Homo sapiens: one gene and its partners. The protein of the gene in region 2 interacts with the protein of the main gene of each other region in a biochemical or structural test. Each region holds a gene or a part of one and is shown on either strand. Other genes may lie near its edges.

What was found.
Region 1: the proteins of DIAPH1 (region 2) and RHOA form a complex in vitro, tested with the Homo sapiens proteins (2 studies listed by BioGRID and IntAct, with this or other methods).
Region 3: the proteins of DIAPH1 (region 2) and RHOC form a complex in vitro, tested with the Homo sapiens proteins (one study listed by IntAct).
Region 4: the proteins of DIAPH1 (region 2) and PRPF40A form a complex in vitro, tested with the Homo sapiens proteins (one study listed by BioGRID).
Region 5: the proteins of DIAPH1 (region 2) and NEDD4 form a complex in vitro, tested with the Homo sapiens proteins (one study listed by BioGRID).
Region 6: the proteins of DIAPH1 (region 2) and APBB1 form a complex in vitro, tested with the Homo sapiens proteins (one study listed by BioGRID).

What each region holds. Positions count from the first base shown.
Region 1 is NC_000003.12:49,376,769-49,381,932, forward strand, and holds part of RHOA (transforming protein RhoA isoform 1 precursor), read right to left. Parts: intron 1-5,164. UniProt on the Homo sapiens protein: Small GTPase which cycles between an active GTP-bound and an inactive GDP-bound state.
Region 2 is NC_000005.10:141,611,802-141,616,965, reverse strand, and holds part of DIAPH1 (protein diaphanous homolog 1), read left to right. Parts: intron 1-5,164. UniProt on the Homo sapiens protein: Actin nucleation and elongation factor required for the assembly of F-actin structures, such as actin cables and stress fibers. Binds to the barbed end of the actin filament and slows down actin polymerization and depolymerization.
Region 3 is NC_000001.11:112,700,631-112,704,127, reverse strand, and holds the end of RHOC (rho-related GTP-binding protein RhoC precursor), read left to right. Parts: intron 1-321; 5' UTR 322-328; coding exon 329-484; intron 485-1,008; coding exon 1,009-1,129; intron 1,130-1,434; coding exon 1,435-1,565; intron 1,566-2,414; coding exon 2,415-2,588; 3' UTR 2,589-2,997; downstream 2,998-3,497. UniProt on the Homo sapiens protein: Regulates a signal transduction pathway linking plasma membrane receptors to the assembly of focal adhesions and actin stress fibers.
Region 4 is NC_000002.12:152,657,615-152,662,778, forward strand, and holds part of PRPF40A (pre-mRNA-processing factor 40 homolog A), read right to left. Parts: intron 5,085-5,164; coding exon 4,989-5,084; intron 1,743-4,988; coding exon 1,656-1,742; intron 1,576-1,655; coding exon 1,479-1,575; intron 1,396-1,478; coding exon 1,334-1,395; intron 407-1,333; coding exon 275-406; intron 1-274.
Region 5 is NC_000015.10:55,982,990-55,988,153, forward strand, and holds part of NEDD4 (E3 ubiquitin-protein ligase NEDD4), read right to left. Parts: intron 1-5,164. UniProt on the Homo sapiens protein: E3 ubiquitin-protein ligase which accepts ubiquitin from an E2 ubiquitin-conjugating enzyme in the form of a thioester and then directly transfers the ubiquitin to targeted substrates. Specifically ubiquitinates 'Lys-63' in target proteins.
Region 6 is NC_000011.10:6,405,368-6,410,441, forward strand, and holds part of APBB1 (amyloid beta precursor protein binding family B member 1), read right to left. Parts: intron 297-5,074; exon of another isoform or gene 1-296. UniProt on the Homo sapiens protein: Transcription coregulator that can have both coactivator and corepressor functions. Adapter protein that forms a transcriptionally active complex with the gamma-secretase-derived amyloid precursor protein (APP) intracellular domain.

The DNA of each region.
Region 1 (5,164 bases), on a different chromosome or scaffold from region 2:
GACATTCTGCAATCTTTCTAAGTTTGGATATTCCTTCTTTTACCAATCTAGATTTGTTTGTAAAGAAACAGCATTCTTGGCTGGGCGCGGTGGCTCACGCCTATAATCCCAGCATTTTGGGAGGCCGAGGCAGGCAGATCACCTGAGGTCAGGAGTTTGAGACCAGCCTGGCCAACATGGAGAAACCCCATCTCTACCAAAAATACAAAATTAGCCAGGCGTGGTGGCACATGCCTATAATCCTAGCTACACAGGAGCAAGAGGCAGGAGAATCGCTTGAACCCGGGAGGCAGAGGTTGTGGTGAGCCGAGATCATGCCATTGCACTCCAGCCTGGGCAACAAGAGCGAAACTCCGTCTCAAAAAAGAAAAATCAATTGAGGCCGAGCACAGTGGTTCATGTCTGTAATCCCAACACTTTGGGAGACTGAAGCAGGAGGAATGCTCAGGCCCAGGAGTTAAGAGACCAGCCCTGACAACATAGTGAGACACTGAGAAAGGAAGGACGGACGGAAGCATGAGAGGGGAGGGGAGAAAGAAAAGGGCCGGGCGCAGTGGCTCACGCCTATAATCCCAGCAATCTGGGAGGCCGAAACAGGTGGACTGCTTGAGAGTCCAGGAGTTCAAGACGAGCCTGGGAAACATAGTGAAACCCTGTCTCTACTAAAAATACAAAAAATTAGCCAGGAGCGGTGGTGCATGCTAATCACAGTTACTTGGGAGGCTCAGGTGGGATAATCCCCTGAGCCCTGGAGGTGGAAGCTGCAGTGAGCTGAGATTGCATCACTACACTCCAGCCTGGGGAACCCCAGTGAGACACTGTCTCTAAAAAAAGAAGGAAAAGAAAAAAAAAAAAATCAGCCAGTTGTGGTAGCATGCACCTGTAGTCCCAGCTACCAAGGAGGCTGAGGTGGGAGGATTGCTTGAGCCCAGGAGGTGGAGGATGTGGTGAGCTATGATTGCATCACTGCACTCCAGCCTGGGTGACAGAGTGGAACCTTGTCTCAAACTCTTATGACTCAACTACAAAAAAGCAGCTTAGGTTGGTGGTCTGGCTCAGGATCTCTTGCAAGGTTGAAATCATAAAGAACTCTTTTTGGGCTGGGCACGGTAGCTCACACCTGTAATCCCAGCACTTTGGGAGGCTGAGGCAAGCAGAACACTTGAGGTCAGGAGTTCGAGACCAGCCTGACCAACCCAGCAAAACCCCGTTTCTACAAAAAATTCAAAACTTAGCCGGGTGTGGTGGTGGGCACCTGTAATCCCAGTTACTCGGGAGACTGAGGCAGGAGAATCGCTTGAACCCAGGAGGCAGAAGTTGCAGTGAGCCCAGATTGTACCACTGCACTCCAGCCTGGGCAACAGAGCACTCCAGCCTGGGCAACAGAGTGAAACTGTGTCTTAAAAAAAAAAAAAAAAAAAAAGAGAGAACTCCTTCTGACATGAAGTACGCTATTTATCTATCCATCTATCTTTTTTTTTTTTTTTTTTTTTTTTGAGATGAGGTCTCACTCTGTCACCCAGGCTGGAATGCAGTGGCGTGATCTTGGCTCAATGCAATCTCCACCTCCGAGGCTCAAGTGATCCTCCCACTTCAAATTCCCCAGCAGCTGGGACCACAGGCATGCGCCACCACGCCCAGCTAATTTTTGTATTTTTGGCAGAGACAGGGTTTTGCCATGTTTCCCAGGCTGGTCTCCAACTCCTGAGCTCAAGTGATCTACTCGCCTCGGCCTCCCACAGTGCTGAGGGATTACAGGCGTGAGCCACTGCCCATCTATCTACGCATCTATCCAATCTATGTACCTATCTAACCTATCTATGTGTTTCTCTATTATGTAGTTATTTTCAGAAAGGGTCTCATTCTGTCACCAAGGCTGGAATGCAGTGGTGCAATATTGGCTCACTGCAGCCTCTGCCTCCCAGGCTCAACTCAAGCGATCCTCCCACCTCAACCTCTCCAGTAGCTGGGACTACCAGGCTCCTGCCACCACAGCTGACTAATTTTTATACAGATAGCGTTTCACTATATTACCCAGGCTGGTCTCAAACTCCTGGGCTCATGCAATCCTCCCGATTCAGCCTCCCAAAGTGCTGGGATTACAAGCATAAGCCACCTCCCCAGGCCTAAATACAGTATATAGAAAAAATTAAAAAATAAAGAACTCTTACAATTCAATAATAAAAAGACAAATAATCTAATCCAATTAAAAAATGAGCAAAGGATGTGAGTAGGTATGACCCTGCAATTCTATTCCTAGGTATATATCTAAGAGAAACAAAAACATATGTCCACATAACAACTTGTACCTCTACATGAATATTCATAGCAGGATTATTCATAATATATTGTCAAAAAATGTAAAGAACCCAAATATCCAACAACTGATGAATATAATATATCCATACAATGGAATGGAATATTATTCAGCGATAAAGGATAAAGTACTGATATATGCTATAGTATGGATAGATCTTGGAAATGTTATATAAGTGAAAGAACCCAGTCACAAAAACCAACATGCATGATTCCATTTATATAAAATTGTCCAGAATAAACAAATTCAGAAAGAGAAAATAGACTGGTAGTTGCCTAGGGCAGGGACTTGGGGGTGGAGAGAAATGGAAAATGACTAATGGAATACTGGAGTTTCTCAGGTAAAAAGATTTTTCCAAAATTATTGTGGTGATGGCTGCACAACTCTATGAATATACTATAAACTATTGATTATAGTATATATAATTCACACATTTTATTTATTTTGAGACAGGGTCTCACTCTGTTGCCCAGGCTGGAGTATAGTGGTGCGATCTCCACTCACTGCAACCTTAGCCTCCCCAGGCTCAAGTGAACCTCCAATCTCAGTCTCCCAAGTAGCTGGAACTAAAGGTGCATGCCACCACACCCGGCTAATTTTTTGTATTTTTAGTAGTGACCGGGTTTCACCACGTTGCCCCAGCTGCTCTCAAACTCCTGAGGTCAAGCGATCCTCCTGCCTGTCTCTCCCAGTGTGTTGGGATTACAGGCGTGAGCCACCGCACCCAGCCCACAGTATATATAATTCACACTTTAAAAAGGTGAATTGTAAGATATGTGGATTATATTTCAATAAAGCTGTTACCACCACTCTCGCCCCCAGTGGGGGGAAAAAAGAGAGAAATCTGCAGATTCCTTCCATCTGGCAGACAGTGATGGTCAACCATCCCAATTCCCGCCCTTCCCTCCTAGACCATACTTCGATTTTTAGCTATGTACTTTGTTGTAGACTACACTTCCTAGCTTCCCTTGGAGACATGGCCATGTACCATGAGATGTGAGAATCAGCAGTATGTTGTGGGACTTCCAGAAAGTCTTTCTTAAAGGGAAGTCTTTATTATCCTCCTCCTTTCCTGCTGCTTAAATCTAAAGTAAGGGCTGGTTTCTAAGCAGCCATCCTGGTATGTGAGAATGAATGCCATACCGTGGGGCTGGAAGAACCAAAAGGTAAAAAGGAGCCTGGATCTCAGGTGATCTTGGGAGCCACCATCTCAGCCCCAAGACTGCCTACCTTCCATGTTTCTTCCATATGAATGAGAAATAAATGACTGTCTTATTTAAGGTGGTATTTTTCAAGTCTCTGTTACCTATAGTCAAACTAATCCTAAATTATATACACTCAGCTGGGCATGGTGATTCACGCCTGTAATCCCAGCACACTGGGAGGCCGAGGCGGGCAGATCACGAGGTCAGGAGTTTGAGACCAGCCTGGCCAACATATGAAACCCCATCTCTATTAAAAATATTAAAATTACCCAGGCGTGGTGGGGTGAGGCAAGAGAATCGCTTGAACCTGGGAGGTGGAGGTTGCAGTGAGCCAAGATCATGCCACTGCACTCCAGCCTGGGTGACAGAGACTCTTGTCTCAAAAATAATAATAATAATAATAATAATAATAATAATAATAATAATAATAAATACTCATTATCAAAACTATATTGTCTAAAGGGTATGTTCCCCAACCAGAATGGATAAGACAATCCACAGGGGTACCAGAAGAAAACTCAGAGGGCAAACAACGACAAAAATAAACAATGAAAACAAAACAAAAAAACTCAGAGGGCTGACAGTGCTGCCATTACTCATTTGTGAATTCTCAGGACAATATTACATACAGCAGTGAATACGTGTGTGTGTATATATATAGATACAGATATTATAGAATTTTATCCAAATCTACAAAATCTAGTAACTTTTTTTTTTTTTGCAAAAAGGGAGTAAATTGAAGATACTACTAATCATGAAAGCACAATAAGAAGCATATCGATGATAGGGAAATGTGCTCAATGCATATCTTCAAACAAGAGCATGCAGTCAAGGCTAGGAGTAATGGCTCATGCCTGTAATGCCAGCACTTTGGGAGGCTGAGGTAGGCGGATCACTTGAGGTCCAGAGTTCAAGACCAGCCTGGCCAACATTGTGAAACCCCGTCTCTACAAAAAATATAAAAATAAGTTGGACGTAGTGGCATGTACCCATAATCCCGGCTACTCGAGAGGCTGAGGCAGGAGAATCTCCTGAACTCAGGAGGCAGAGGCTGCAGTAAGCCGATATCTCGCCATTGCATTCCAGCCTGGGAAACAAGAGAAAAACCCCGTCTCAAAAAAAAAAAAAAAGTTAGCTGGGTTGGTGGCAGGCACCTGTAACCCCTGAAAGGCTACTCAGGATGCTGAGGCATGAGAATCACTTGAATTAGGCAGGCGGAGGTTGCAGTGAGCTGAGAACGCGCCACTGCACTCCAGCCTGGGCAACACAGTGAGACTCTGTCAAAAAAAAAAAAGGATTGGCATGGTGGCTCACGCCTGTAATCCCAGCACTTTGGGAGGCCGAGGCCTGTGGATCACGATGTCAGGAGTTCGAGACCAGCCTGACCAACATGGTGAAACCCCATCTCTACTAAAAATAGAAAAATTAGCCGGGCATGGTGGTCCGCACCTGTAATCTCAGCTACTCAGGAGGCTGAGGCAGGAGAATCACTTGAACCCGGGAGGAGGAAGTTGCAGTGAGCTGAGATCGTGCCACTGCACTCCAGTTTAGGCAACAAGAGCGAAAATTCGTCTCAAAAAAAAAAAAGACAGAGAGTGAAGTTCCCCAGTTAGAGTCAAGTGTGGCAACTCATGCCTGTAAT
Region 2 (5,164 bases):
GTGTGGTACTGTAAGGTGAGAAACCTGAGGAAGCTCAACCCCTTTTCACCTGTCTTTTGGAATGTCCATGAAGTCTTCTATATGTTTAATGGATTTGGCTCAGGGTTGTAGGTATTTGCTTTAGAGAGGATGGAGCTGAACCAAGTTCTCTTTTCTTTCTGCGGTGTTAGTCTTAACCCTTAATCTGCTGAATTTTTAAAACTAAATAGCTCAGGTAATGAGGAAAATTGCATTAGTAGCTACGGAATTGGAAGGTTTCTAGGAAAGTAGTGCTGCTTAACCCTTTTATTGCCAAATGTAACCTATCTCAAGGCATCAGAATATTCTTTCTTCCTCTTGCTCCTTTTATGAGAACTCTGTGGAAATGAGAGATGAGGAGGAGCATTGCAATCCACTTCTCTTTGTGTCTGTGTATGTATACGTGGGTGGGTGGAGTGGGCGAGATTGCTGGTGTGCTTTTGATACCCGTGGCTTAGTTTTCTTGAACTATAGGCTAAAACTGAACTCAAAGGTCTTTCGCCGCCTCCACCTTTTCTAGAGTATGTGTCCTCTGGAACTCCATTAAGAATGTACTGTATAAAACTGCACTGGTTTGGACTAAGTGTGCCCGAAGGTTGTTTGCATTTGAGGGTTTATAATTCCTTTAGCTGCTACATACCTTTCCTGGCTTATGCAGGTTCTAAATACGGATTAACTGGTGAGAACACAGAGCTCACAAATTGTCTGAGATCTGCTCTTACCCTCTGAGGCATCTTGTGTGGAAAGGAGATGGACCCTCAGTTTAAAAGTGGTTGGGCATCATCTTTTAAAAACACATGATTGTTAGACGTGCTGACAGTGAGTGGCTGAAGCCAGGCTGCCTGGTATTACCCCTTGGTTCTTCATGAGTCTGTCTTCTCCTGGGCCATGAGCATACCCCTTCTCCGGCATTATTCCATTTCCTTTCACAAGTCCTTAAGATGAAGGAAAATAAAAATTTTAGGTGAACAGAGGGTTTTCTGACTTTTCAGCAGTGATCAATGTGGGTGTCAAATAGACTGATTTCCAAAATATACGTAAGGGGAATAAGTAGAACCGGGATGTTAGGAGGCTGCAGAGTATTCTTACATTTAATAGACTTTGTATGCACTCTCATATAATCGAGAAAGTGATGCATTGTAAGAGAGAATATTGCTTCCTGATTTAACTAGGAGCATTAGCGAGAATTTTTTTTTTCTTTTTTTGAGATGGAGTCTCGCTCTGTTGCCCAGGCTGGAGTGCAGTGGTGCAATCTCAGCTCACTGCAAGCTCCGCCTCCCGGGTTCATGCCATTCTTCTGCCTCAGCCTCCCCAGTAGCTGGGACTACAGGCACCTGCCACCACGCCTGGCTAATTTTTTTTGTATTTTTAGTAGAGACGGGGTTTCACCGTGTTAGCCAGGATGTTGTCGATCTCCTGACCTCGTGATCTGCCCACCTCGGCCTCCCAAAGTGCTGGGATTACAGGCGTGAGCCACCGCGTGCGGCCCTTTTTTTTTTTTTTTTTTTTTCTTTTTCTGAGACGAGTCTTGCTGTGTCCAAGGCTGCAGTGCAGTGGCGCGATCTCGGCTCACTGCAACCTCCACCTCCCGGGTTCAAGCGATTCTCCTGCCTCAGCCTTCCAAGCAGCTGGGATTACAGGTGTACGCCGCCACACCCAGCTAATTTTTGTATTTTTAGTAGAGACTGGTTTCACCATGTTGGCCAGGCTGGTCTTAAATTCCTGACCTCGTGATCCGCCAGCCTCAGCCTCCCGAAGTGCTGGGATTACAGGCGTGAGCCACCTCGTCCGGCCAAGAGAATGATTTTTACTATTATTAAAATTATTAAAATTAGTTTAATTTTGGATTCCTATATTGAGTTATGATCATGTTGCAGTTACACGGTCTTCTAAATGCAAAGTAATAGAGTATAAATGTTTAGTAGTAGACTCCTGTCCAAAAGGAGACAAATTAAAGGATGCCAGGCAGAAAGAAGTGGAGTTGTTCGTGCAGATTTCTGCTTATATCCTCTTAAAACATTAACTTTAATCCAAAAGTTTGCAGAAAACTGAAAAATATACAGAGAGCTTTGCAAAAGTTTGCAGAAAACTGAAAAATATACAGAGCGCTTTGTACACCTTTTTTTTTTTTTAACAGATGATGAACGCAAGGATTATATAGTTTGGAAAGAGGGAGGGGAGCCTACAGGAACGTTAGTGAGATGTTTGAGATGACAGAATGGTAGCTTAAAGATTTCCGCCATTCTTCCTGCCTTGTCTTAAGGACAGATCATGAGTCTACTTGGTATGGTTACCTGTACTTTTTCAAAGAAAATTCTCCCTCACAGGAGGTGAAAGTGAGGGAATGCCTTAGAATTAAAATCTCTGCCTTGGGAGAGTTGGTAAATTTTTTTAAAAAGCTGAAAATTTTATGACCCGTAAATTATGTTTATTATGAAAGCTAAGAAAATAGTGAGACATGATTTAATTTTGTTGATGGGTGCACGGGTCAGAATAATTTTATTTCCTGTGTCTTAGAATCACCTTTTGTTATTCCCCAAGGCCCTTGGTATTTTATAAATGTATTGCCAGGCTATTCTCAGGGAGTGTTATATATCTTCCATGAAATGTAATAGAGATTTAAAAGATAAGTTGTATGTCACATATGATTTAGAAGAACAGGTTAAAATAATTTTTATTGATAAATACTAGATGTTATAGAGAAGCAAAGAGTTTGTATATGCAGGTTTATATATCCCTTTTTATGTCCCAGTAGCTGAAATTATTTATGGCTACAAAAATCATCCCCATTTTGAAACAAACTTTGTATTACTTAAGTGGTTTTCTTTTTTCATTGAGCCTCCTTTTCTCAATTACCTTTGTTTGAAAGCAGTAGGCAAAAAATTCATTTTATGCTACCAGCAAAGCATTGGATGTTTGCCCCTCCTTGGGGTTAGGTGAGACAAAGCCACACTCTCCCCTTGCCTGGCTGCCTGTCACCTCCTCCCTGTGTTTTTATTCCTTTCCTACTTACGTGGGGGCTGATTTGAGCGCTATGAATAGCCAGGCCTTTGGGGAATTAGGGGCAGTCAGAAGCTGTTGATAATAAAATTTCTTAAAACTTTTAAGCTAAAATTGAAAAGTAAAGAATAATTACTATGAACATATTTTACTGTATTTCTCCTTTTTTTTAACACGTTTCTTAGGATCAAGAAACCCTTTTTAAGGAAGTAAAAGAATTACTGAAGGAAAAGAGAAATAGACTAATATTTTAATGAATTTTACCACTGATTACAAGATAACTCTCATTGTTCTTTCAACTTTGAAATTCTTACTTCCATCCATTATTAAATCTTACTGTGAATGGTACCCTTAAAACTTCAGAGTTGGAAGGGACTTTAAATGTCATCAAGTCCAAACACCCACTCAGTGCAACAGTCACTTCTGCAGTTGTAGGTTGGAAACATCAGGGGGCTAAGAGGTGGAAATTGGATGAACAAGTGGAGGAAGAGGAGCAGAAATTTTGGATTCTACATTTTCTTTACTAAATTTTAGGATCTTGGGAATGGCTGGAGTAGTAGAAAGAGATTATATAAAAGGAACAGATATACTAGAAGCTGTGAGATTGAAAGGAAAAAGATTGAAGAAATTGGCTCTCTATTGCTTGGCTCTGTAACAGTTAGGGAGAGTCAGTTTGCCCTTTAAATATTTGTTTAAATTTCTTTCCTCCAAGGCGGGGGATAGAACAGATAAGGGGATGCAAATGAGAGTTAGCATAATGGAATTGAATTAAAGGAAACATTCTCTTATGGAGGATGGGAAAATTCCATCCTTGGTGGTGGATATGACTGGTCCTTAGTAGCTATCTGGGAATTTTGTTAGGGTGGCAAATATAGGTAGAATTTATGGTGTCCTGTATAATTTTCTGGATTTCTGATTTTGTGACTTATTTCCTGTCTTGTGAGTAGTGTCATCTGAAGGCTTTGGATTTGTAATTTCTTTTAAGATTTAAAATACTGTAAGGACCCAAGACAGGATGATTTATAAACCATTTTTGATACTGAAGGTCACAGAAAACCAAAGAGCATACGTTGGTAGTTGGCCTTACATCTCAGATCTGTCTGTGTTTTATTTTCAGTGTCAGAACTTTAAGATCAAGTAGAAAAGATACCCTTCATCTCTATTTTTACAGCATTATTGATATATAATTAAAATACAATAAACTGCATATTTATTCATGAAACCATTTCTATAGTCAAGATAATGAATATAGCAGTCACCTTCAAGTTTCCTCCTTCTCTCTTTGTTATCCCTCCCTCTCACCCATCCTCGTCCTCCCATCTCCAGATTACCACTAATTTTCTTTCTGTAACTATAGATTAGTTTGTGTTTTCTAGAATTTTATATAAATGGAATCATACAGTATGAACCCTTTTGCTGGGGCTTCTTTTATTGTGATGTGTGGTCTTTCATATATCAATAGCTTAATCCTTTATATTGCTGAGTACTATTACATTGTATGGATTTACACAATTTGTTTATTCATTTACCCTATTGATGGACATTTGGGGTGTTCCCAGTTTTGGGAGTGCAGTTTTTGTCTGTGAACATTCTCATACAACTTTTTGGGCTGGACATATGTCTTCATTTCTCTTGGGTAAGTACCCATGAGTGGAATGACTGGGTCATTTGGTAGATCTATGCTTAATTGAGAAATTGCCAAACTGTTTTCAAACTGTTTTCCAAACTGTTTTCATTTTACATTCTTACCAGCAATGTGTAAAAGTTCCAATTTCCTGTCAACTGTTAGTATGATCAGTCTTAAATTTTAGCCATTCTAGTGGGTATGTGATGATATCTCAGTATGCTTTATTTATTTATTTATTTATTTATTATTTTTTGAGACAGAGTTTCACTCTCGTCGCTCAGGCTGGAGTACAGTGGCATAATCTCGGCTTACCGGAGCCTCTGCCTCCCAGGTTCAAGGGATTCTCCTGCCTCAGCCACCTGAGTAGCTGGGATTACAGGAGGCTGCCACCACACCCAGCTAATTTTTGTATTTTTAGTAGAGATGGGGTTTCATCATGTTGGCCAAGCTGGTCTTGAACTCCTAACTTCAGGTGATCCACCTGCCTGGGCCTCCCAAAGTGCTGGGATTACAGGCGTG
Region 3 (3,497 bases), on a different chromosome or scaffold from region 2:
TGAGCAGCTCTCTAGCTACCTGGAGTCCCCAGGTTGGCAAGTGGATTAGATTGAAACTCATGTTTTCCAGCTCCCAAGTGGGGTCATCATCTACCTCCCACCACTGTATTCTAACCCATCGAGGGAGACCTGTCCCTGACCCAGAGATTAGGAATTTCAAGCTCTGTTGTCGCACAATTGGTGTTTTGCCAGAACATGCCTGAGCAAGCCCCCTGTCCCTTTGCTAGATGCCTCGGTTTCCAGGGAGGTTTGGGGGCCCTAGAGAAGTGTTTTTGGACTTAATGGCTTTTCCTCAAATCCCCAATACGTCTTTCCTGGCAGCCCCACCATGGCTGCAATCCGAAAGAAGCTGGTGATCGTTGGGGATGGTGCCTGTGGGAAGACCTGCCTCCTCATCGTCTTCAGCAAGGATCAGTTTCCGGAGGTCTACGTCCCTACTGTCTTTGAGAACTATATTGCGGACATTGAGGTGGACGGCAAGCAGGTGAAGGCAGAAATGCCCTTCCCACCCCACCCTGAGACCCCGCCCCCCAGTCACTGAATGACCTAGTATGTCCTTCCCCATTCCTACCCCTGTCTTTGCTTCATTCTCCCTGCTGGAACCAGTAAAAGTTAGGAAGTAAATCTGCAGTCTTAAAAAACCTGGATATACTTTCTGGTTCTCCCACAGACTGGCTCTGTAACCTGGGCCGAGTCCCTTTGCCTCTGGGTTTAAGCTCCCCCACCTGCAAAATGGGGATGATGGTAAGACCTCCCTCAAAGGGTTGTTGTGAGAATTAACCAAAATAATGGTGCTCACAGTGGCAACTCAAGGGTCAAACACGTCTTAGATTTCTTTAACAAACTGACCTAATTTATGTTGTGGGACAGTGATTAATATAATGCCTGGTGCATAGCAGGTGCTCAAATAAAGAAGTTCAGTGAGCCCGAAGGACAGTGGTTTCAGGGGACCTTTGGGTGGCAGGGTTGGGGCCCTCAGGCCAGCTACTCACTGGCCCTGTGTGTCAGGTGGAGCTGGCTCTGTGGGACACAGCAGGGCAGGAAGACTATGATCGACTGCGGCCTCTCTCCTACCCGGACACTGATGTCATCCTCATGTGCTTCTCCATCGACAGCCCTGACAGCCTGGGTGAGGGGATTGGAGGGAGGGGACTGAGAACCCCTTGGAATCAGCCAGAGGTCTCGTGCCTTGGCCTGTCTTCAGTCATCTTCAGAGGTGGGGGTGGGGATGCAGGGGAGCACTCAGGCCCTGTTGGTCTCCTTTACTGTGGTAACTGGCCCTCTGAGGGCATACTACTGTTGAGGTTTTGAGCTGTGAAAGGGACCATCATGCTGAATGGCTTCTAAGACTGCTCTGGGAAGATGAGGGCCCCCCCAGGGGAGCTTTCTAGCTTAAGTGGAGGCACCGACACCTGTTGGTGCATGTCTACACAGAAAACATTCCTGAGAAGTGGACCCCAGAGGTGAAGCACTTCTGCCCCAACGTGCCCATCATCCTGGTGGGGAATAAGAAGGACCTGAGGCAAGACGAGCACACCAGGAGAGAGCTGGCCAAGATGAAGCAGGTGGGTACGGCTGCCAGGCTGGAGCCCCTGGGGAAGAATGCACCCTCTGAGGGGTTGCAGACGGGCAAAGGGAACTTCTCTCCAGCTACTGCCGTGTGTTAGGGGAAACAGTAATATCTCCTGGTGAGGGAGGACCCATAGGGTTGTGTCTGATGAGGTATCAGAATGAAGTGACTTGTCCAAAGTCACTTGGCATTTTTATTTATTCCAGTTAATTGTCCATTCCGTTCAGAATTGGGACTATTAAGATGATTAAGAAAATCTGCCCTCGGGGAGACAGCTTATGTTTCACTTGGGATACCCAGGCTGTGCCATCAGAGTGCCCCTGGGGGAGGTGTAGGGATGTGGATGCGGGAATGAGGGCAGGCATTGTGTAAGTGGCTGGAAGAAGGGATGTGAGAGCTGGCTTATTCAGGGACCTGTAAGTGGCTCTCTAGCCAGAGGACTAGAGTTTATTAGAGAAAGCTGTCAGGATAAGAAATGCAAAGATAATTATGGCAAAGTTTCAAACTGGGGAGATGTTAGGTCTGTGTGTTAGAAAAATAATTCTGACTGGAAGAGAGTGAGGATGGAGGCAGAGCAGTCAGGAGGTGGGAGACGCTCATTCAGGCAAGAGAACCAGGGGCTGTGTGTGGGAGGAGGTGGGGCTGCATGGGAATGGAGGGAGTAGACTGGAGGGATTTTTGGATCCCTGGCCACGAAGCTGCCCAGGGTAGCTGGGGCCTGGGCGCTTTCTGGGTCAGGGCTGGAGAAGGAGGCATTTGTTCCAGCTGCTACACTTATGGGTGAGGCAGGAGAGGTTCATGTAGTCAACAGCTTCCTTTGACCCCTCATCTTATGTCTTCTCAGGAGCCCGTTCGGTCTGAGGAAGGCCGGGACATGGCGAACCGGATCAGTGCCTTTGGCTACCTTGAGTGCTCAGCCAAGACCAAGGAGGGAGTGCGGGAGGTGTTTGAGATGGCCACTCGGGCTGGCCTCCAGGTCCGCAAGAACAAGCGTCGGAGGGGCTGTCCCATTCTCTGAGATCCCCAAGGCCTTTCCTACATGCCCCCTCCCTTCACAGGGGTACAGAAATTATCCCCCTACAACCCCAGCCTCCTGAGGGCTCCATGCTGAAGGCTCCCATTTTCAGTTCCCTCCTGCCCAGGACTGCATTGTTTTCTAGCCCCGAGGTGGTGGCACGGGCCCTCCCTCCCAGCGCTCTGGGAGCCACGCCTATGCCCTGCCCTTCCTCAGGGCCCCTGGGGATCTTGCCCCCTTTGACCTTCCCCAAAGGATGGTCACACACCAGCACTTTATACACTTCTGGCTCACAGGAAAGTGTCTGCAGTAGGGGACCCAGAGTCCCAGGCCCCTGGAGTTGTTTTCGGCAGGGGCCTTGTCTCTCACTGCATTTGGTCAGGGGGGCATGAATAAAGGCTACAGGCTCCAACGTGTGTGGCAGCTTTCGGTCTTTCCCTCTGGGTGCTTGGTGTCCCATCTCTTTTCATGTCCAAGTTGCTTGCCAGCCTGGCCCCCTGTCTACAAAGCAGGCCAGTGGCCAGCAGGGTGGAGTCTTAGAGCAAAGGATGAGGTCATGCCTGGCTCTGGGCCAAGGAGGCGGGTGAAGGGAGTGGTCTGTAGCAGGGGGCTAAACTTAGAAACCTGTGGGTGGCTTCCCTGCCACCTCCCACTGGGTTTCCTCCCCCGAGTGTGGGGGCTGGGTTCCTCTCCAGCTGGGAGGGGATGTGACCCTCAGCAGGGCTGAAAGTCCCACCCTTCCCTACAGGGTCAGCTTAGGGGCTCAGGAAGCTGGGGCCAGGCAGAGGAGACATTATCAAGGCTTTTGCATAGAACAAGATTTTGTTTTCAGAGTTTTCTTCCTTCCCCTTCCCCCAATTGTTAGCAGCTTGATGTGTCATTCTCCCCAGCAGGGGAGGGGGTGGAATGGCT
Region 4 (5,164 bases), on a different chromosome or scaffold from region 2:
CTTAGTGACCATATCCTTTCTTAGTGAGTTAATAAGGCTATAGTTATGAAATGCTATATTTAAAAAATATCAAATTTAGGAGAATAAAATCTAGGATCATGCATGACCAAAAACTATGATATTGTGTGAAATGTACTTAACTGAATTTTCACTGTTTTCTTCAATGGTAGCACACCTGGAAAAAAGCCTATTCTTTCAACACCATCATGGTTTAACCACAGAATACATTTTTGCATTTTGAAAATACAGGCATGAAACAATTCTAAATACTTACAGAATCCTTTCCAGTCTTTTTCTTAGGCGATTTGTGTTTTGATTCTGATCTTTGTCTAGTTCTGTCTTTTTCACTTTCCCGATCTTTTTCTTTTTTATCCTTCTCTCGCTCAGCATCGGATTCTGGAGAGTCCTGTATGAATAGAAAATAACAGGTTAGCATTTTGATGAAGATACCATTGTTATATAGGTAATATTTAAGAACATCTATGTGTAACAGGTTATGTGCTCTTAGAGAGATGAAATAAAATGTGAATTGTTAACCTCAAGGATTTAGTAAAATTTACCCAAGATTCATGGGGACAGCTTTCCCTTGGGAAGGATAATATTCTGAAGGATAAAATACCACTCATGAGACTTACTACCACATAATAGATGTGTAGTATCTATTATGTAAATACAGACAGATACTACATTTCTCACCAACTCAATATAATATTGGTTTATATATGTACATAGTATACTGCTGTTAGCTTTAACACATAAGGCAGACAGCTGTATTAATAAAATTATTTTCTTGAAATTGCTGAGTAGGAATTATTTAAAATTTAACGTTAGTGCTTAAATGGTTATTCATTAGATATGCACAAATTCAAATAAAAAGAATGTAATTCAACAGGTCTGTGGTGATACCCAGGCCTTCAGATTTTCAAAAAGTTCCTTAGGTGGATCTTAATGTACACCTAAGAATAAGAACTGCAAGAGTAGAGTGGTTGTTTTAACATTTAAACTTGTGGTTCTCAACAACAGCTGCAATCTACACATACACACAAACATACATACATACACAGAGACACATGCACACACACGAGTCTCTTTCTAGAATATTAATTTTAAAGACCAGGATGGGGATCCTAACACTGGTGTGTGTATTTTTTCAAAGCTCAACAATTGATTTTAATGGAAGATTAAGGTGAAGAGCAACAACAAAACTCTAAGTTTATGTGCCCACCTGAACTGTCCTGGGCTGCAGAGAACTAGATAGAAAAAGGTTCTATGATCTCTGAGGAAGTTAAGGGCAAAAGCCTAGGTGAAACGTAAAAATTAGAAGCTTGCTTACAGATTTATGTCTCCTCTTCTTACTTTTCTTCTTATGCTTTTTTGACTTTTTATAACTTCTCTCTGAGTAGCACAAAAGGATAAAAAGTGTCAGACTTTGAGTATATCAGTGTCAATGATTTAATCAAATAAATAGAAATGCTCACCAGACTCTGCACTAGAAGAATGTTCTGAAGCAGAACGAGACTCTGATCGCTGTCTTTTTTTCTTTGAATGGCTATCATCATCATCTGAATCTGACCCCTAAAAAACACAAATAATTTCATTCATAATAATGCTAACACTTTAATACACTCATGACACCATATAATAAATTCCCTTACCGATCGAGAGCGGGAACGTTTCCTATGATGTTTTTTAGATTTCTTAGAATGTTTCTTGTTCTTTGAATGATGATGCTGACATTCATGCTACGGGGACAAAAAAAAAATTTCAAGAATTTACACTTACTGTAGACAGACTGTAAAGAATCTTTAAAAAGCTACGGAAGTAAGTTCTTAGAGTAAAACTCTACAATATATAGAAATGTAATCCCTTGAAACTGTGAAGAATTGTCAATTTTTTTTTCTTTTCCTTCTTGCCCATCCTATACCCACTCATTTAGACATCTAAACAAAACAATGTTAAAAACTGTTAGTAGAAAAAGTAGGGCTTTTTTTGTTTTTGTTTTTTTTTGAGACGAAGTCTCGCTCTGTCACCCTGGTTGGAGTGCAGTGGTGCGATTTTGGCTCAATGCAACCTCCGCTTCCCAGGTTCAAGCAATTCTCCTGCCTCAGCCTCCCAAGTAGCTGGGATTACAGGTGCACACCACCACGCCCAGCTAATTTTTGCATTTTTGGTAGAGGCAGGGTTTCACCGTGTTGGCCAGCCTGGTCTCAAACTCCTGACCTCAGGTGATCCACCCGCCTTGGCCTCTCAAAGTGCTGGGATTACAGCCATGAGCCACTGCACCCAGCTGAAAAAGTTTTTGTTTGTTTGTTTTTTTGAGATGGAGTCTCACTCTGTCACCCAGGCTGGAGTGCAGTGGCGTGATCTAAGCTCACTGCAAGCTCCGCCTCCCGGGTTCACGCCATTCTCCTGCCTCAGCCTCCCGAGTAGCTGGGACTACAGGCGCCTGCCACCATGCCCGGCTAATTTTTTGTATTTTTAGTAGAGATGGGGTTTCACCATGTTAGCCAGGATGGTCTCGATCTCCTGACCTTGTGATCCGCCCACCTCGGCCTCCCAAATGCTGGGATTACAGGCGTGAGCCACTGTGCCCAGCCTGAAAAAGTATTTTTTAAGGAAGAGAATGGTGTGATTTAGAAGAAAAGTGTAATATGCAGTGACATCTGCTTTTAATGACAGTCAAATACAATGACACTCAGACATGGTTTTTGTAATCAATCTGGCTTTGGTCAGCAAGTTAGGCCAAGCACTAAGATAAAGAACAACCTGAGAGCCATCCTTGAATTGAGATATATAAGGCTGATGTCAGAATAAATGCAAAATCTGCTACCCCTCTTTCATTTCCCCCAAGGAGCCATTTCCTTCCTCCTCAAACAAGACATTGTTAGACATCCATATGCTGTCTTTGTGGATTTCTACTTATTAAAACAATTACTAGGTTAGCAGTGATGGGGGGTGCTACAGTACAAGCTCCTTGCCCCTAAACATTTCTATGGCTTTGAGAATAAATTCTACCTCAGTTACAGAAGTGGAAATGGAAAATCTGGATCTCAGAATGGACTATTCTCCTTTTGATCTCACTGAATGCTAACCTACCTTTCTTTAATACCTCAAGCCTCAGATTATTAAGGCCCCAAAATCTGAATGTGTTCAGCCCTTCCCTATGGTACCATTTTTACTCCATTTACCACCTAACTACTTTACCCCCAGTATAGATCATGAAAGAATCTGTAGACTCTTGAACTGGGGGAAAATAGGTTAGTCACTATCTAGAGCAGAGCTTCTCAAAATTAAATGTATATTTTAATGCTTGGGAATCTGGTTAAAATGAAGTCAGACGCAGGATTTCTGCCCCATGGGGCCTAAGGTTCTGCATTCCTAAGAAGCTCCTAGGTAATGCAGATGCTTCTGGTATGCACTACATTTGGCACAGAAAAGATCTAGAGGCCCAGCATGGTTGCTCACACCTATAATCACAGTACTTCAGGAGGCCAAGGCAGGAGACTTGCTTGAGGTCAGCTTGCCCAACACAGCAAGATCCCATCTTTATAAAAACAAAAACCAAAAAAGCCCCACAAAAAGCCAAGTGTGATGGCACGTGCCTGCAGTTCCAGCTACTTAGGAGGATTGTTTGAATCCAACAGTTCAAGGTTGCAGTGACCCATAACTGCACCGCTGCACTCTGGCCTAGGAGTGGATGGATGACAGAGACCCCGCTTTAAAAAAAAAAAAAAAAAGGCCAACAGGACCACATCTAGAGGCAGCTGTGAAACAATACAGGGCCTTCGTGAGTACATGGTACAGAAAAAACTGTGGTTAACATTATATTAATCAAGAACAATAAATCAAGAAATAGGAAATAGTCAATTTAGTGACCTATGCCCATTTACAATGCAACACTGTAATATTAAGCACCTACTAGTTTTTAGCTTATAAAGTATTAGCTACTCTAAAACTGACAGCATGGCATACTTGTTAAAAGCACTGACCAAGGTCAACATGCCCGGCTTCCAACCCTGTAAGTCACTTTACTTCTCTCTGCCTTAGTTTGTTCACCTATTAACTTCACAGGCTTATTGAAAGGATTCAGTTCATAAATATAATATACATAAAGCAATTAGAACACTGGCCCACATAGGCATCGAATACTATTATTCAATAATTATTGGTCAATTCAGCATACTTACAAGGGCCTAACTGAAACTGTCATCAAAATACTTTTTTTTTTTTTTTTTTTTTGGGGAAGGAGTCCCGCTCTGTTGCCCAGGCTGGAGTGCAGTGGCATGATCTTGGCTCACTGCAACCTCCGCCTCCTGGGTTCAAGCAATTCTCTTGCCTCAGCCTCCTGAGTGGCTGGGATTACAGGTGCCCGCCACCACTCCCTGATAATTTTTTTGTATTTTTAGTAGAGACAGGATTTCGCCATGTTGGCCAGGCTGGTTTCAAACTCCTGACCTCAGGTGATCAGCACACACCTTGGCCTCCCAAAGTGCTTGTTTTACAGGCGTGAGCCACCGTGCCCAGTGAACCTTACCTATTAAAGTGACCTGAGATGTTATTGTTTCATTGCTTATTTTAACAAAAACTTACCATTTATTCCATTACTTTCCAGAAACTTTCTTTTCTACACAGCTAATGTGGTATAATACCTCAAATGTGCCTAAAAGCTGTCTTCTATCTGCTTTACAAGAAAAATTTCAAGTTTTCTTTATTAGTCAATCAATCCATGTGGCTGCCAAACTGCTCAATTTCTAAAACTTTCTAAAAATACAAAACAGTCTTCACATACAAATCTTTATATTCCCATGGAAACTTAATAGTTTCTTTTACTTAAAAGCAGTTTTTATAGGAAAAAAACCATTCTCTAACCATCCAGGTAAGTACATTTGTATAAAAGCAGTGAATATTAAGCAACATACTTTCATCATTCTAAGTTCTTCAATTTGTTTATATTTTATATATTTTGTATATGAGAATTCTAAAATTACCTCAAGCACATGCATAAAATCTTTAAATATTCGTTTTCTTTCAGATTCTAGAGTTATGTCCTCAAATGCTGGCTCTTTTACAAATCTCTCACGGATCTGAAAAATTCAGATACAAAATAAATATATGAATACCAAGAAAAGTACAACGATACATCTAAAATAAATCATAACAGCAA
Region 5 (5,164 bases), on a different chromosome or scaffold from region 2:
CTGGCGCCTGTAATCCCAGCTACTCGGGAGGCTGAGGGAGGAGAATCACTTGAACCCAGAAGGCAGAGGTTGCAGTGAACCGAGATTGCGCCATTGCACTTCAGCCTGGGCAACAAGAGTGAAACTCCATCTCTTAAAAAAAAAAATTCTAGGTGATATATTTTAGGCAGAAAAAGTGATCCTAGATGGAAAGGTGAAGAAGCAAGAAGAAATAAAGAAATAACTAGCAAACAAATGTTAAGCATATGAGGAACAAATATTAACTATGAAAAATAATGTTGATGATGACGACAATGGTGTGTGTGTGTGTGCGTGCGCGCGCGTGCGTGCATTTGATTTCCATGCTACTTGGTATACAATTCCAAATCCTTAACACGGCATGCCAGGCTTGCCTGATCAGGCTATCCTCTCCAGCCTCATCTGCTGACGTTGTGCCTCTTGTTTTAGCACTCCAACCTTCCTGTTCGTCTCCATCCCATCTTTTGCACATGTGGTTCTATTTACTCAATGGGGTTCTATTGCCCCACTCTTCACCTGCTAACTCCTATTCATCCTTAGTTTCAATTTCCTTGATATTTTCTCCCTTCTCCACACCATATAAAATTAATTAATTTTTAGATATACTTTTTTTTTTTTTTTTGAGACAGAGTGTTCTTCTGTTGCCCAGACTGGAGTGCAGTGGCGCAGTCTCGGTTCACTGCAACCCCCACCTCCCGATTCAAACAATTTTCCTGCCTCAGCCTCTCAAGTACCTGAGACTACAGGTATATGCTACCATGCCTGGCTAATTTTTGTATTTTTGGTAGAGACAGGGTTTCACCATGTTGGCCAGGCTGGTCTCGAACTCCTGACCTCAAGTGATCCACCCATCTCAGCCTCCGAAAGTGCTGGGATTACAGGTGTGAGCCACTGCGCCCAGCCTGTTATAAATACTTTCATCTTACACTGTTTTCCTTAATAACACTTATAAAATATTGATGTGTGATAATTTATTTAATGTTTCTCTCTCCCTCTTGGCTATAAAATCGGTAAAGTATATTCTATATCATTATACCTCATGCCCTGACCCACGTGCCTGATACATAGTGTTCATCAAATATTTGTTAAGCAAATACAGAAATCAAGTACTTCAGAGGTCCACCTAAAAGCTTTATCAAGAAAAGACAGAAGATGTGGAAATGAGAGCATAACAATTACAAGTTAATTTTGCACACATTCCATTCACATTCATCATATTCCTGAGAAAAAGTCTCTTCTGTTAAATTATTTTATTTGCGTATTAGTAGCAGGAAAGTGGAAGGACCAAGTGTTTGTTATGAATATAACACTTCTCCCTACTGGGAGAAGGTTCTTGAACAAATCAGAATCTCATATTCCTTATCTCTAAAATGGGGGTAATACTTCCTACTTCTGCAATAATGTTGTGATGATTACAGCTAAAGTATGAAAAAATCTAACCTGGTGCCTGGCACAGAGTGGGTATTCAGTTAAAGGCAGTTGCTATTTATTTAGGTTGACTCTTTTTCCCAAAGGAGAATACTTTCACTAAAGCATCTTTATTGACGGCCATGATTGTTTGTTCATATTACTCTCTTCATTGCCCCAACATGTCTCGCATCAGTTGAAGCCAGACATTTGAGTCCAGCCATGAGTTATAATAATGGGCTACAGACATATTTACTCAACTTTCAGAAAAGCCTTATCAAAATGCTTTTTGTTTGTGCTGTGCCTTTCTCCCTGCATTTATCTCCAGACTTCTCCTATCCCCTCCCCATTCATTTATCCTCTTAAACTTTGATACTATTGGCAAGGAGGCCAGAAGAAATAGAAGTCCTAAAGAAGAAGTAACATCAATTGCCACAGAATTCAGCAGAACAATGGGTTCAGCAATTCAAATCAGCTATCTGACTTAAAGATTCAGCTCTGGAGTAGATAACCATGATAGATTGAGAAGCAATTGTGTTCAACTGGTTCCTGCATGTCTCCAAATGCTATAGAATATTTCTGAGACAGCAAGGGGATGGGAGAATCAGCAGACTTAAATATCCTGCTCTGACTGATGTTTAATTATGCAAGATTCACCAAGTAAGTGACAGGGCCAGAATTCCAACACAAAAGAATCCCATTTTCTATACCCCTGCTCACCCTAAATGATTTATTTACAAGGTCTCTTCCAGCTCAAAGATTCTACTCCTATGTGATATATGAATTCCTAATTACCTATAAAAGAAATTATAGTTCCTTCTCCTTTTCTGTTCCTGGCGCAGAGCAGTCAATCACAGGCCACTACAGAAAATGTCTGTGGAGTGAGGGTGAATTTCACAGAGGTGCATGGTTGGCATGCTCGCCAGCACGGGGCACTGAGGGGAGGAGGGAGATACCATACAGAGATGCATCAGAAGGGTGCCCACTGGCAAGGGTACTGAGGAGGGGAGGACGGCGTTGCACAGGGATGCTGCATAGAGAATAGCAATATTCCCACTGGCATCCAAGGATGTGAAGAGCTGAAGTGGCAGAGGAGATGTCTGCGTGGTCAGGAAGTTAGTTACACTGAACACATAAGTCAATGAACAAATATATTAAGGATAATAAAAGTCAAATTTTTTCACTGTTAGAAAAGGTACTTATGGCTATAAAGGAACTCAGGTATTAGGTTTGAATTGGAAAAAATCAGTATGAATTCATGATTTTTAAATTTATGTATTTACAGATTGATATAGAAATAGCTATAGATCTTTGTGTATACTTATATATGTGTGTAGAGTACACATACACACACACACACACACACACACACACGCTTAACTGTTCAGAGATGGTCCAAGAGTATATCCCAGTAACAATGAGCACACCAAGTACCCAAATTGTAGCATGTAAAAACCATTTTATACTAAATAGGACCAGTGCTTCTAGGGAAAATGGCTGATTGTAGATAGCTGAGCCAAGCAAAATACAAGAGAAGCCTGGAACAACTTCTGCCAGAAAGTGTTCAAAGAATGATGGGGACTTGTTACGAAGACCTAGGAACCTCCTTGAAAGGGCTCCCACTGGACAAACTGGGACAGTATGAGCAATAAAATATTTAATGACAGTAACTGATTACAACCTGCTGAATAAAGTGGGATTTTACAAGTCTATGCTGATATAAATAAATGACAGGAAAAGGAAAGCTCTTCTTACATAGAATGCCAACTAACAGAGATGGAAATAAAACAAAATAGTGGTGTTTGGTTCAGATAGAATTCATCAATGGATGCTAAAACTGAGGATGAAGACTTGACGAGAAATAGGATATTGGCATAATCTTACGATATGTCCCCTGAAAATACTATCAATTATAAAGAGAAAAAAGGTGACATTACAGAGAAGAAACCTGGCAGACACCAAGGTGACCAAGTGATTAAGGTCACTGACAGTGTTGGGACAAGTCAGCATCATGTGTCCCCTGGTGTGATGCATGCGAAGAACACAGCATCATTTCTATGATTCCTGCCAAGAGAGCGTGACCTGAACATGGTCATCAAGAAACACTAAACAGACCCAAACAGACCCAAAATGAGAAACATCGTAGGATGTAAGGCCTGTCCTTGCTTTTTTTTTTTTTTTTTTTTTTTTTGTGAGACGGAGTCTCGCTCCGTCGCCGAGGCTGGAGTGCAGTGGCATGATCTTGACTCATTGCAAGCTCTGCCTCCCAGGTTCACGCCATTCTCCGGCCTCAGCCTCCCGAGTAGCTGGGACTACAGGCACCCACCACCACACCCGGCTAATTTTTTTTTTTTGTATTTTTAGTGGAGATGGGGTTTCACCATGTTAGCCAGGATAGTCTCAATCTCCCGACCTCGTGATCCACCCGTCTCGGCCTCCCAAAGTGCTGGGATTACAGGCGTGAGCCACCGCGCCCGGCCAAGGCCTGTCCTTCTTAAAACTGTCTAGGATAAGAAAAACTGTGCATGTGTCTTTATAGCAGCATGATTTATAGTCCTTTGGGTATATACCCAGTAATGGGATGGCTGGGTCAAATGGTATTTCTAGTTCTAGATCCCTGAGGAATCGCCACACTGACTTCCACAATGGTTGAACTAGTTTACAGTCCCACCAACAGTGTAAAAGTGTTCCTATTTCTCCACATCCTCTCCAGCACCTGTTGTTTCCTGACTTTTTAATGATTGCCATTCTAACTGGTGTGAGATGATATCTCATAGTGGTTTTGATTTGCATTTCTCTGATGGCCAGTGATGATGAGCATTTCTTCATGTGTTTTTTGGCTGCATAAATGTCTTCTTTTGAGAAGTGTCTGTTCATGTCCTTCGCCCACTTTTTGATGGGGTTGTTTGTTTTTTTCTTGTAAATTTGTTTGAGTTCATTGTAGATTCTGGATATTAGCCCTTTGTCAGATGAGTAGGTTGCGAAAATTTTCTCCCATGTTGTAGGTTGCCTGTTCACTCTGATGGTAGTTTCTTTTGCTGTGCAGAAGCTCTTTAGTTTAATTAGATCCCATTTGTCAATTTTGGCTTTTGTTGCCATTGCTTTTGGTGTTTTGGACATGAAGTCCTTGCCCACGCCTATGTCCTGAATGGTAATGCCTAGGTTTTCTTCTAGGGTTTTTATGGTTTTAGGTCTAACGTTTAAATCTTTAATCCATCTTGAATTGATTTTTGTATAAGGTGTAAGGAAGGGATCCAGTTTCAGCTTTCTACATATGGCTAGCCAGTTTTCCCAGCACCATTTATTAAATAGGGAATCCTTTCCCCATTGCTTGTTTTTCTCAGGTTTGTCAAAGATCAGATAGTTGTAGATATGTGGCATTATTTCTGAGGGCTCTGTTCTGTTCCATTGATCTATATCTCTGTTTTGGTACCAGTACCATGCTGTTTTGGTTACTGTAGCCTTGTAGTATAGTTTGAAGTCAGGTAGTGTGATGCCTCCAGCTTTGTTCTTTTGGCTTAGGATTGACTTGGCGATGCGGGCTCTTTTTTGGTTCCATATGAACTTTAAAGTAGTTTTTTCCAATTCTGTGAAGAAAGTCATTGCACACGTATGTTTATTGCGGCACTATTCACAATAGCAAAGACTTGGAACCAACCCAAATGTCCAACAATGATAGACTGGATTAAGAAAATGTGGCACATATACACCATGGAATACTATGCAGCCATAAAAAATG
Region 6 (5,074 bases), on a different chromosome or scaffold from region 2:
ACCACCCCCCACCCCTCACCTGCCAGGGCCCAGCTAGGCTGCAGCGTCTCCTCGGCAACCGCAGCACCAGGACCGGCTGGGAGCGCCCAGACTGCTGACGTGCTTCCCGTTACCAGGGAAACCAGGAATCCTGACTGGTCCAAGAGGCAGTACTAAGGGACAGGCAGTCCCAAGACCCTGCTGCTGGGCAACCAGACACAGCAGGGCTGGGAGTGGGCGTGGTTACGCCAAGGTGGCTGCACACCTGACGAGAGTTATTCAGGCAGGGTGCTTCACCATCCTCAGCTTCCAAATGACGTGGGCCCACAGACACCCAAAGAGGAGGGGCTCTTGCCCATCCACCTTCTAGGCAGCCATCACCGCCTCTCCTCACCCCCACTTCCCCCTAACTCACACTCTATGGAATAAGGTTTTCAATAGGCACCTGAAACTTAGCTGAGGCTCAGGGAATACCTGCTGTTCCCTAGAGACCCTCCATTGCCTCAGGACTCTCCTGCTAAAACCTTCCAGGAACAGCACCCTAGGGCCTCCATGCCCTCCACAGCCACAGCCTGCTTCATGAGGGCTGGCTGGACACTTCTGGAATCTGGGGACCAGTTCACCATCTCCTGACTGAGTCACACACACCAATCCATCTGCCATCCCTGTCAGCCTGTACCTTCCTGCTTCAAAGAGCTTCATCCTTCCGATCTGTCCTGGAAGGGCAGTTTCTCCCCCCTTGGCCATCTGGGAGGCCCTTCTGGAGCTTGGCACATCTCCCTCCAAGCGCAGCCCACCCCGGCCTTTGCTTTCACACACATGCATTTATTCCAGAACGCACACCTTCACTCCTGCATCGATTCATGCGACACTTACATATAAAATACATTAAATGTTCACGTATCATTCCTTCCTTCCTTCATTCGTTCATCCACAAATGCCTTAGTGGTGAAGCCAGGTGTACTCACTTGCTCAGGAATCAGTGATTGACTTAAAGCTTTCCCCTTCTCTCCACCCCACATAACTAACATAGCCCAGGCTACTAGCTTTTTTTTTTTTAACCTGCATCATTGCAAAAACATCATAACTGGTCTTTCTCTTCCTATCTGGTCTCCTCCAATCTCAGCTGCACAGTACAGCCCAAATGATTCTTCTGAGATGCTAAACTAATCAAGTAATTTTCCAACGGAATCCTCTTAATTGTTTTGTCACTGCCCTCAGGATAAAGTCCAAATTCCTCCCCAGGTTTTATGTGCTGTCATGAACCCCTGTCTGCCTCTCAGCCTTACCTCCAGCCACTCCCCTTCTCTCTCTTTGCTTGGGACATGCCCCCTTGTCCTCTCCCAGCCCACCTCCCTTACTCTCGATTTTCACCTGGCTATCACCTACCTCTCCTTCAGACATCAGTATACAGGTCCCTTCTTAAAACTGACCCATTGCCCTCTCCCCCACCACTCTCACAGGCAGGGTCAGGGGCCCCTCCTGTACTTCCCCAGCCCCAGAGAGCTCATCGCACTGATCATAACCACTTGTTTCTTTCTTTGTCTCCTCACCAGGCTGTGAAGGCCAGGAGGTAAGAACATCTTTGCCCCATAGTATACATTTCCAGCATTTACGATAAGGCCTGGAGCAGAGTATGAATTCAATACAGGTAGTAAAGTTTATTCATTCATCATTCATTTAATTCATGAATTCATGCATTTATGCATTCAATCCATAGCTCTATGAATATCCTACAATAGGAAGGAGAATATAATTTTTGCTCAATTCTAGCCTCATTTCTGCAGGAGCACAAACCTTCTCTGCAGCCCTCATGGTCATAGCAACACAGTTGTAAAAGAGTGACTTGGCCCCTTTCCTGGGCTGGCCCCCACCTCTATCCTCAATTCACAATGTCTCCACCAGTGCATGATCCTTGAGAATCCTCTTGCCACTCCAACATCCTTGCTGAGGTCACTGCCCAGCAAACCCGCCCCAGCTCTTCAGCAGTACTATCCCCCTACTCCTAGAAGCTTCATAGGTAGTTCAGAGTTGCAGCCCCCACAGTGACCATCCCAGGGGCAAGTGAGCAACTAGGCCTCTATTTGGTCACTGACTCACACCCCCTAGTCTTGCAAACTTCCAACCTACAACCTGCAGACTGATGCAAGCCTCAGATAGATTGTGTGTGGCCTGCACAGTGCTTTTTAAAAAATAGAATTTGTTGTTAACGTTTAGAAATTGGGCTATTTTACACCAATATCTAGTTTTCAGTTTCCCTTTAACTGGCTGCATTGAGACTATATTTTTCCTCACCCCAATCCCAAAAATAATCAGCTGGAGTGCAGGAGGGGCTGTTCCTTTTAAAAGGAGTTGAGACAATGACCACCAAAGGCCACTAACATCACAAAAAAGAGAGGCAATCAGACTTTGCCTTTAGTAGAAGTATTTTTTTTTTTTTTTTTGAGACGGAGTCTCGCTCTGTCGCCCGGGCCGGACTGCGGACTGCAGTGGCGCAATCTCGGCTCACTGCAAGCTCCGCTTCCCGGGTTCACGCCATTCTCCTGCCTCAGCCTCCCGAGTAGCTGGGACTACAGGCGCCCGCCACCGCGCCCGGCTAATTTTTTGTATTTTTAGTAGAGACGGGGTTTCACCTTGTTAGCCAGTATGGTCTCGATCTCCTGACCTCATGATCCACCCGCCTCGGCCTCCCAAAGTGCTGGGATTACAGGCGTGAGCCACCGCGCCCGGCCTAGTAGAAGTATTTAATACCACCTATGAAATATTCTTGCAAAAGCAAAACACAAAAATGCTCAAATCTGAATCTGATCAAGGCTCTAGAACTAACTACCAATTTACAGGAAATCCAGGGGAAGAGGAGCATGGTAAATATGACCACAGGAGAGAGTCTGAAAAATCCAAACCATAGAAAACTCAGGACAAGCAACATGATTCTCCAGTTAAAAAACAAAAGCAAAACTGCAAACAACAACAACGAAAAAAATAGAAGGGGAACTTGATCAAACATAACTTTAACAGATAGATCAGGCCAGACATGGTTGCTCACACCTGTAAGCCTAGTGCTTTGGGAAGCCAAGGTAGGAGGATTGTTTGAGAACAGGAGTTCAAGACCAGCCTGGGCAACATGGTGAGACACTGTCTCTACATTTTTTTTTTCCTTCTTTTTTTTTTTTTTGAGAAGGAGTCTCGCTCTTATTGCCCAGGCTGGAGTACAATGGCTCTATCTCAGCTCACCACAACCTCTGTCTCCCGGGTTCAAGTGATTCTCCTGCCTCAACCTCCCGAGTAGCTGGGATTACAGGCGTTTGTAACCACGCCCAGCTAATTTTGTATTTTTAGTAGAGACAAGGTTTCACCATGTTGGCCAGGCTGATCTCGAACTCCTGACCTCACGTGATCCACCTGCCTCGGCCTCCCAAAGTGCTGGGATTACAGGCATAAGCCACCATGCCCAGCCAATGTTTGTGTTTTTTGTAGAGACAGGGTTTCACCATGTTAACCAGGCTGTTTCTGAACTCCTGGCCTCAAGCAATCCACCCACCTTAGCCTTTCAAAATGCTGGGATTACAGGCGTGAGCCACTGTGCCCAGGCTCAATCCAGCCTTTTTTTGGCAGGATATTTAATGATATTAAAGAATTATTATTAAATTTTTGTAGGTACAATAATGATATTGTGGTGGGTTTTTTTTTTAAGAGTTTTATCTTTCAGAAATGCAAAAGTAAACTGTTGTTGTTGTTGTTGAGAAAGGGTCTCTCTCTGCCATCCAGGCTGGAATGCAGTGGCTCAATCATGGCTCACTGTAGTCTCGACTTTCTTGGGTTCGGATGATCCTCTCAGGTCAGTCACCTGAGTAGCTGAGACCACAGTGGCTGATGCCTCCACTCCCGGCTAATTTTTTTGTCTTTTTTATAGAGGAGAGGTTTTGCCATGTTGCTCAGACTGGTCTTGAACTCTTGGGCTCAAGCAATCTACCCATTTTAGCCTTCTAAAATGCTGGGATTACAGGTGTGAGCCACTGCACCCAGCTGTAAACATTTATAGATAAAAGTATTTGCTTCAGAATAACCTACGCTGGGCCTAGGAACGGAAGAGAGCATGCAGGTAGCAAGATTAGTTATGTATTGATAATTGGTAAAACTGGCTCGTGGGTAAATCAGGCTCATTATTCTTTTCTCTCTATTTTTGTGTATGTTTGAAAATGTCCAGAATGAGTTTTTCGAAAGGGGATGGTGTGCAGCCCTAGGCTCATCTGAACTGCATGTTCTCCACAAAGATTGCACAGTTTGGGGTATGGGTATTGTGTCCGCCACCTGGTAAGGATAGGGGTCTTTCCTAATCTTTCTTAGACCTCCATCTACAAAACTCCAGGGTTTTGGTTGTAACTATAGCCCATTATCTCCACTCTTTGTTCCTCAGCTTTTCCTGTATTCGCTACACGACATTAGAAAATGTGGAGACTCAGCTTAATTTAAATGGACATATTTAATGATTAAGCCCTGGAGTCCTAGTATCTATTCTCCTCCCCCTACCCAAAGGGTTTTCTTTTCTAACTTTTAGTCAATATCCTACTCCTGACAAAACTGTATCCTTGCAATGGTGCTGGAGCATGTGGATTATAAGCACACAACATTCCCAGTCTTTCCAAACAGACCTCTGTGGGGAGCTGCTGGCTGCTCCCAACAGGCGTGACCTGTTAAAACGGGGCAGACTGGCGACAGAGTGAGACTCTGTCTCAAAAAAAAAAAAAACGGGGCCGACTGTCCCAAGTGCACCTGAGTGCATTGTGCTCTATGCATTGGCGGCAGCATAACACGGGGCCAAGAGCTCAGGCCTGGACTGAGACCTGGTTTAGATTTCAGCTCTATTGTAATCTCAGCCTGTCTGTGGTCTCGAGAAAGCTACTAAACCTCTCTGGATCTCTTTTTTGTTATCTGTAATATGGGAATCATCATAATATTTACCTCACAGCTTTATTGTAAGGATAAAGCCTGAAAATGCTGAGCAGAGGGCCAGTTACCTAGTCAGTGCCCAGTAAACTAGTCCACTTATCAACCATGGTGGCATGCATAATGAATAGATCCATCCATCCGGGCA